Linked DNA regions of Homo sapiens. The protein of the gene in region 1 purifies or fractionates together with the protein of each later gene. This does not show direct contact. Each region holds a gene or a part of one and is shown on either strand. Other genes may lie near its edges.

What was found.
Region 2: the proteins of SSC5D (region 1) and KLHL23 purify together in Homo sapiens (affinity purification with mass spectrometry; one large-scale study listed by BioGRID and IntAct). This does not show direct contact.

The regions. Positions count from the first base shown.
Region 1 is NC_000019.10:55,501,688-55,505,501, reverse strand, and holds part of SSC5D (soluble scavenger receptor cysteine-rich domain-containing protein SSC5D isoform 1 precursor), read right to left. Parts: intron 1,387-3,814; coding exon of another isoform or gene 1,316-1,386; exon of another isoform or gene 1,161-1,315; intron 1-1,160.
Region 2 is NC_000002.12:169,736,718-169,740,531, reverse strand, and holds part of KLHL23 (kelch-like protein 23), read right to left. Parts: intron 1-3,814.

The DNA.
Region 1 (3,814 bases):
TACAAAACTGCAAAATAATAAGTCTGCGTTGTTTTAAACCACTAAATTTGTGGCGATGTATTATGGCAGCAATTGAAATAGATACAGATCTTTCACAGAGCTTAAAGTCTAGCAGAGATGGATAACACCGATGAAAATTTCTGGCAATGCAAATTTCTCCCACCCTTTGCTTCTCTGAGAATTCATTTCTCCTTGTGGCCTGCTGATGAAATAATATCATCTCCCCTGTGAGGTTTCCTTGATTTCTCTACTACAAATAATCGCTCGTTCCCTGAAATCCTGCAGCTGTTGTTCGTTTTCAGCAAATAACCCTAACAAACAATATTCTGCGGTTTTAAACGATTTCACACACATTTTGTTCATTGAATTGGGGCCTGCAGTCACCCAACTAGTTCTAATCCGGGTTGGAACCACGATTGGAACCTGGTAGGAGAGTCGGACTCCAGACTCGTGCTTCTATTTTAGCATATGGTTCCCAATCCAAGGAGCAAAACGTGTGAAATCACTTAAAACAGGTTATAATCGTGGCTCCTAAGTTAAACTTCTCTGAGCCTCACTTTTTACCCCATCTGAAACACAGGTGTAGCAACAGTTTCTATGGCCTGAAGTTGGGGTCATGCATGCCCAGCACAGACTAGGTGAGCTCTCGTTCCACCTTTCCAACAACCCTGGCGCCCCATTTTTTTTCCAGAGAAAGAAACAGGTGGCCGGGCGCGGTGGCTCACACCTGTAATCTCAGCACTTCGGGAGGCCAAGGCGAGTGGATCACGAGGTCGGCTTTGAGACCAGCCTGGCCAACATGGTGAAACCCCGTCTCTACTAAAAATACAAAAATTAGCCCGGTGTGGTGGCGTGCGCCTGTAATCCCAGCTACACAGGAGGCTGCAGCAGGAGAATCGTTTAAACCTGGGAGGCAGAGGTTGCAGTGAGCTGAGATAGCGCCACTGCACTCCAGCGTGGGTGACAGAGCGAGACTCCGTCTCAATAAATAATAAATAAATAAAACAATATAAATAAGAAACGGGGACTCAAAGAGACCAAGTCACTTTTTCAAGGTTACATTGCTCCTGAAGCTAAGAATGCATGCCTGCCTCGTCTCCCACTCCACCCCGCATACGCCTCCAAGTCTTCCTATTGATAAGGTGGCACACATGGCTGTCTTTTCATTTCACCGGCGCAGTTTGTGATTCTGCATTTATTTCTGCTCATTGGCTGCCTCCCTACCCTACGGGAGGGGTCCCGAGGCCGGACCCGCTGTCTCCGCAGCCGCTGTGCCCGGCACGTGCCCGCCTCCACCACGAGGGGGCGCTATGGGCTAGGGAGGCGCTGCAACCCTGGCAGTCCTTGAACGAGGAGCATCACCTCTCGGAGCTCCCGCTTCCGGCTCTGGAAACGGAATGATAGCTCTAACTCACAGCTGGAGCCCACCCACCCCCAAGTCACGGCGCCTCTAGGGCCTGCTTCCTCCCTCCCTTTCCCCACCTCAAGGCCCGCTTCTTGGGGCCTGGTTGCCCTTCGCCCAGCTATTATTACTGCGGGCGATGCGCCGGCTGGCCAATCAGGAGGCGCAGCGCGCCTGTGACGTCACGAGGTGCGAGGCAGATGAACGCCTGCCCCATCCCGTCCCTCCATTCCCGGGCCCACCGCGCCTGCGCATGCGTGCTGAGCGCCAGAAAAAAAAAAGGCGGGAAAGGACGCTTGCGGCGAGACTCTCCTGCGGGAGCGGGAGGCTTGGGCCTCTCAGGAGGGCACAGGTACGGGGCGCGGGGCGACAGAGGCAGAAACCCAGGCAGCCCCAGACGGCGAGCAGGGCGGGAGAGTGGAAGGGAGGGAGAAGACGGAGAAACAGCGACTGCGACGGGCACAGAGGGAGGACAGAAACGCTGCCCCTTAGGTGGGGAGTGAAACCTCCCGTGAGGGAGCGGCGAGGGCGGCGGGGACGGTGAGAAACGGACAGAGGAGCCCGCGGGAGACAGAAACGGAGGGAAGGGGGCTGACCATGAGAGAAACGAGGGGGAGAGAGAAGAGAGCACGCGGGAGACTGCAGGGAAGGCGCGGGAGATGGAGACTCAGAAAACAACCGTAAGAGACAAAGGAAAAGATACCACAGCGCTGGGCCTGGGGAGAGAACGCAGTGAGAAATGGAGACGATGAGAGTATGAGGTGATATAGCAAAACCGACCGTGAAAAATCGAGTGAGAAGCAGGTGGCGAAGCTGAGAACTGAAAGTGAAAGACAAGAGGACGGAAGATACAGAAACAGTTTGGGCCCAGTGGCTCCCGCCTGCAATTCCAGCACTTTGGGAGGCCGCAGCAAGCCGATGACTTGAGCCCAAGAGTTTGAGACCAGCCTGGGCAACATAGTGAGAACCCATCTCGACAAAAAATCAGGCCGGGAGCAGTGGCTCACCCCTGTAATCCCAGCACTTTGGGAGGCCGAGGCAGGCGGATCACGAGGTCAGGAATTTGAGACCAGCCTGGCCAACATGGTGAAACCCGTCTCTACTAAAAATACAAAAATTAGCCGGGAGTGGTGGCACACGCCTGTAATCCCAGCTATTCAGGAGGCTGAGGCAGGAGAATCACTTGAACCCGGGAGGTGGAGGTTGCAGTGAGCCGAGACCACGCCACTGCACTCCAGCCTGGGCAACACAGCAAGACTCTGTCTCAAAAAAAAAAATTAGCCAGGCATGGTGGTGTGCATCTGTAATCCCAGCTATTCAGGAGGCTGAGGTCGGAGGATCACCTGAGCCTGGGAGTTCAAGGCTGCAGTGAACTGAGATCGCACCACTGCACTTCAGCCTGGGCAACAGAGCAAGATCCTGTCTCAAAAAAGAGAGAGAGAAATTTACCATGAAAAATGGAGTGAGAAACAGAGGTGGTGAAGGTGAGATCTGAAAGAAAAGTGAAAGACTGAGGGGGAAAGACAGATAAATTGACCAGGAAAAACTAGGTGAGAAACAGAGATGAGAGTGTGAGACTGATAATGAAACAAAAAGACAGAAGGACAAGGGAGAAAAAAATAAAGAGAAACTGACCACGAAAACTGGAGTGAGAAATAGATGTAATGAGGGTGAGAAATTGAAAAAGAAAGACAGGGAAAAAGAAATGATGGGAATATGAAACTGACAACGAAAGAAAAAAAATGAGAAAGATGGTGAGAGAGAGCAAAAGAAATTACCATGAAAAAAATACGGCATAAAGACGAGTGTGAGAAATTGAAAATGAAAGGCAAAAAGAGATTGGCACAGAGAAGAAAAGATAGAGAATTTGATCATGGAAAATGAAGTGAGGCCAGGCATGGTGGCTCACACTTATAAACCCAGACATAAGCCCAGCACTTTGAGAGAGTGAGACAGGAGGATCGCCTGAGCTCAGGAGTTTGAGACCAGCCTGGGCAACATAGTGAGCCCGTCTCTACAAAAATTAAAAATGAGCCGGGTGTGGTGGCGCACATCTGTAGTCCCACCTTTTCAGGAAGCTGAGGCAGGAGGATCGCTTGGGCCCGGGCAGTCAAGGCTGCAGTGAGCTGAGATCACACCACTGCACTCCATCCTGGGCAATACAGAGATAGAGATGATGAGGGTGAGAAATGGATAATGAAAAAAAGAGACCAACAGCAAGTGAGAAACAGGAGCAGAGATGGATTCGCAGGGATCCTGAGAGATGGGGATACAAGGAAGACAGGCAAAGAAAAAGGCAGAAGAATGTGGTGACAGTGATGTGGGGGCCAAAGCGGGGCGTGGTCCCAGGTGTGGAAGGAGCTGCAGCAGCAAGACAGAGGCCATAGAGCAGAGGGGGATGGAGCTGTGGCC
Region 2 (3,814 bases), on another chromosome or scaffold:
GCTTGCAGTGAGCCAAGACAGTGCCACTGCACTCCAGCCTGGGTGACAGAGCGAGACTCCGTCTCAAAAAAAAAAAAAGCTTATAGAATAAGGATAAAAAGAAAGTATTTTTATAAGCTATATAAAGTCTACAGTAATGCCTGTAATTCCAGAAGTTTAGGAGGCTGAGGCAGGGGATCACTTGAGCCCAGGAGGAGTTTGAGACCAGCTTGGACTACAAAGTGAGACCACATCTCTACAAAAAATAAAAAAGTAGCCACGTGTGATAGCATGTGCCTGTAGTCCCAGCTACTCGGGAGGCTGAGGTGGGAGGATTGCTTGATCTCAGGAGGTCAAGGCTGCAGTGAGCTATGTTTACATCACCGCAGTCCAGCGTACGTGTCAGAGCAAGACCCTGTCTCAAAAAAAGTAAAAAGTCTACAGTAGTGTACAGTAATGTCCTAGGCCTTCACAATCCCTCCCCACTTACTCACCGACTCAACCAGAACAACTTCCAGTCCTGCAAGCTCCATTCATGGTAAGTGCCCCAAATAGGTCTACCATTTTTATCTTTTATGCTGTATTTTTACTGTACTGTTTCTATGTTTAGATACACAAAGACTTACCATTGTGTTATACTGCTTAGAATATTCAGTATAGTAACATGCTGTACAGGTCTGAAGCCTAGGAGTAACAGGCTATACCACACAGCCTAGGTGTGTATTAGGCTGTAGAATTAGTATGGTATAGCCTGTTGTTTAAGTATAACGTTCACATGACAAAATTGCCTAATCACACATTTCTCAGAACATATCCCCATTGTTAAGTGGCACATGGCTGTAATTAGAACACTAGATATAAAATGGAAGAAACACCATGAAAAAAGGGACAGATGAACTGCTGGGCATGGTCAGGGCAAGAAAACACTGCATTTGACGAGGGAAATCACAGCAGGTGGTGGTGGAATTTGACCTGGGTGATGGTAGGAAGTTGGCAAGTATAGATGAGAGGAGGCCATTCTAGACAGAGGGAAAAGCCAGTGCAAAGGCTTACTGGACAATGTTAAGTAGCCCAGTTTGACCAGGGCAGGTGGCACATTGAGGGTTGTTGCATGGGACTTTAAGGCTGGCATGGTAAGTTGAAGCCATGTAGCAAAGGATACTTACTGATGCCCAACAAAGAATCTGGATTTAATTCAGCCAGATTTTAAAGGTTTTTAAACAGAGGAATAGAGCAACTAACAAAGGAAGAACAGGTACCAGAAAGATCTAGTTACTGGCCAGGGTGGGCGGTCTCGAGGGCCTGATTTTGAAGGGGCTTTGGGTATGGAGGGAAGAGCATAGAGGAAAGAGACAGGTAAAACACACAGGTCTTGATGACTGACTGACGCAGAGGCAAACCAAACCGATTTTGAGGTCCTGAGCTGGAAAAACTGGAATCACTGATGCCAAAACAAGGAGGGGTGGGGGAAGTCGAGGAGGGGAAGGAGAGGGAGGGGAAGGAGGAGGAGGAAGAAGAAGGCAGAAGGAGGGAGAGGAGATGGGGGAGGGGAAGGGGAGGAGGGGGAGGGGGAGGGGAAGGGGGAGGAGAGGGAGGAGGGGGAGGAGAGGGAAGGAGGAGGAAGAAAGAGGAAGATAGGCGAAACATGAAAGGGAGATAGGGAGGAGAGGGAGGGGAAGGGGGAAGAGAGGGGAGGGTGAGGAAGGGGAGGGGGAGGAGGGGGAGGAAATAGGTTTGGAGGGAAGATGAAGAAAGGAAGAAAGATGATGAGGATCATTTTAGTTGAAAACGTTGGTTTTGTCTTTCCACTAACTTTTACCTAGCACCATTTTGCATGATACAGTTCAATCTTCTTGTTCCTTTCTATTCCAAAATAAAAGTGGATTTATAAGTAGAGCAGTTATGATGGAAAAAAATAAAGATTCAGGAGTTCCTAAACAGCCAAGTATTTATTTATTCTCTGTACATTAGTGAACTTAATTTGGGTCCAGGACCAAAAAAAGGTAATAAATTTTAAATTTGACTGTACCCAAATTAAGTTTATTACCAGAGAAAGCTGCTATTTCACTTCAAGGCTACAAAATAAAACGAATTGAAAAAAATGTTATCCTTTCTACCAAAAAATGGGAATCTAAAAGTTCAGTATGGCTGGGTGTGGTGGTTCACACCTATAATCCCCGCACTTTGGGAGGCCAAGGTAGGAGAATCATTTGAGGCCAGGGGTTCAAGACCAGCCTGGGCAACATAGTGAGACCCCCCGCCATTTCTAGTTTTAAAAATTAAAAATAAAATTTTAAAAATTGTTTAAAAAAAGTTCTGTATGAGTCCACCCACCAAAACAAGCAGTAGTCAAAACTGCACATAACTGGCAGTGTTACCTCTCCCTGGGATGACTAGATATAAACAAGAATCAAAGCTTTGAGTTCAAAGTATAAAACTGGAATTTCAGACCCAGTTAGCAGGTGAGGGAGGACTTTGAGGTATGAGGGTCTCCTACTCCACTCAAGGTTAACGCAAGCATGCATATGGCTTTTGTTTCACAGTAGATACACCATCGCAGCATATCTTTTTTCAACAAGCACTGTTCTAAATATAAATTTTTAAAATTTCAGTAAAGTAATAAGCTTTCATTCTCAAAGAAATATACTCTGAACCCACCCTTGTAATCCCAGCACTTTGGGAGGCCAAGGTGGGGGGATCACTTGAGGTCAGGAGTTCAAGACCAGCCTGGCCAACATGGTGAAACCCCGTCTCTACTAAAAATACAAAAATTACCTAGGTGTGGTGGCACATGCCTGTAATCCCAGCTACTCAGGAGGCTGAGGCAGGAGAACTGCTTGAACCCGGGAGGCAGAGGTTGCAGTGAGCCAAGATCACGCCACTGCATTCCAGCCTGGGAGACAGAGTGAGACTCCATCTCAAAAAAAAAAAAAGAAAAAGAAAAAGAAATATACTCTGAACCACAAAACCATTGAAACTGTTATATCATCCTTAAAAAACAGAATCAGAAATGTATGCTAGTTTACAATAGCTCCTTAAATATATGGACTTTTCTTATTTCTTTTGCAGAAGAGGGGTCAGGACATTCAGAGCCCTCCTGGAATCGGCAAGTAGTGGTGAGACTCAGGCAAAGACAAAAACCAGGGGAGCAACAGCACCGGGCTTTCTGCTACCTTCTCCCACCCTGGTGTGACAGTGGTCACAACTTCACATGAAATCAATTTCTGCTCTATAAGAGCTGACATGTCCTTCAATACCGACATTCAGGACAATCATGCGTAACATTTATAGCATGCTTACTCTGTGTCAGACACTGTTCTAGGCACTTCACAAGCATAGATTAATTTAATCCTCTCAATGATCCGAGACTAGGTAATATTGTCATCCCCATTATACAGATGACAAAACGGGGGCACAGGGTGATTAAACAATTTGCCAGAGCTCATCAGCAAGTAAGAGGAAAGCAGGGATCTGGATGCAGGCAGTTTAGCTTCAGAGGCAGCGTGCCTGATCCCAAGACTGTTCTGCCTCTCAGCTTCCTGCCTGTCATCCAAGGATCATACCAGGTCAGATTTCCAGACCAGGTCAAATTCCCACACTCTCACTAGCATTAAAAAAGAAACAGAAAAGCCTGGGAAGAAACATTTGGGACAAAATGATACAAATTTGGTAACGACCTACCAGTTGTTTTTGTACAACTCCTCAGCACCAATGAATAAATACAATGAAATAAGATTCCCGTTTAACTTTTTTTCCAGTGGGAGAGAAGGAGAGCAAGGCAAACAAATCGCCAAACACAGCAGAAAATAGTGTTTATCAGACAGATACCGAGACC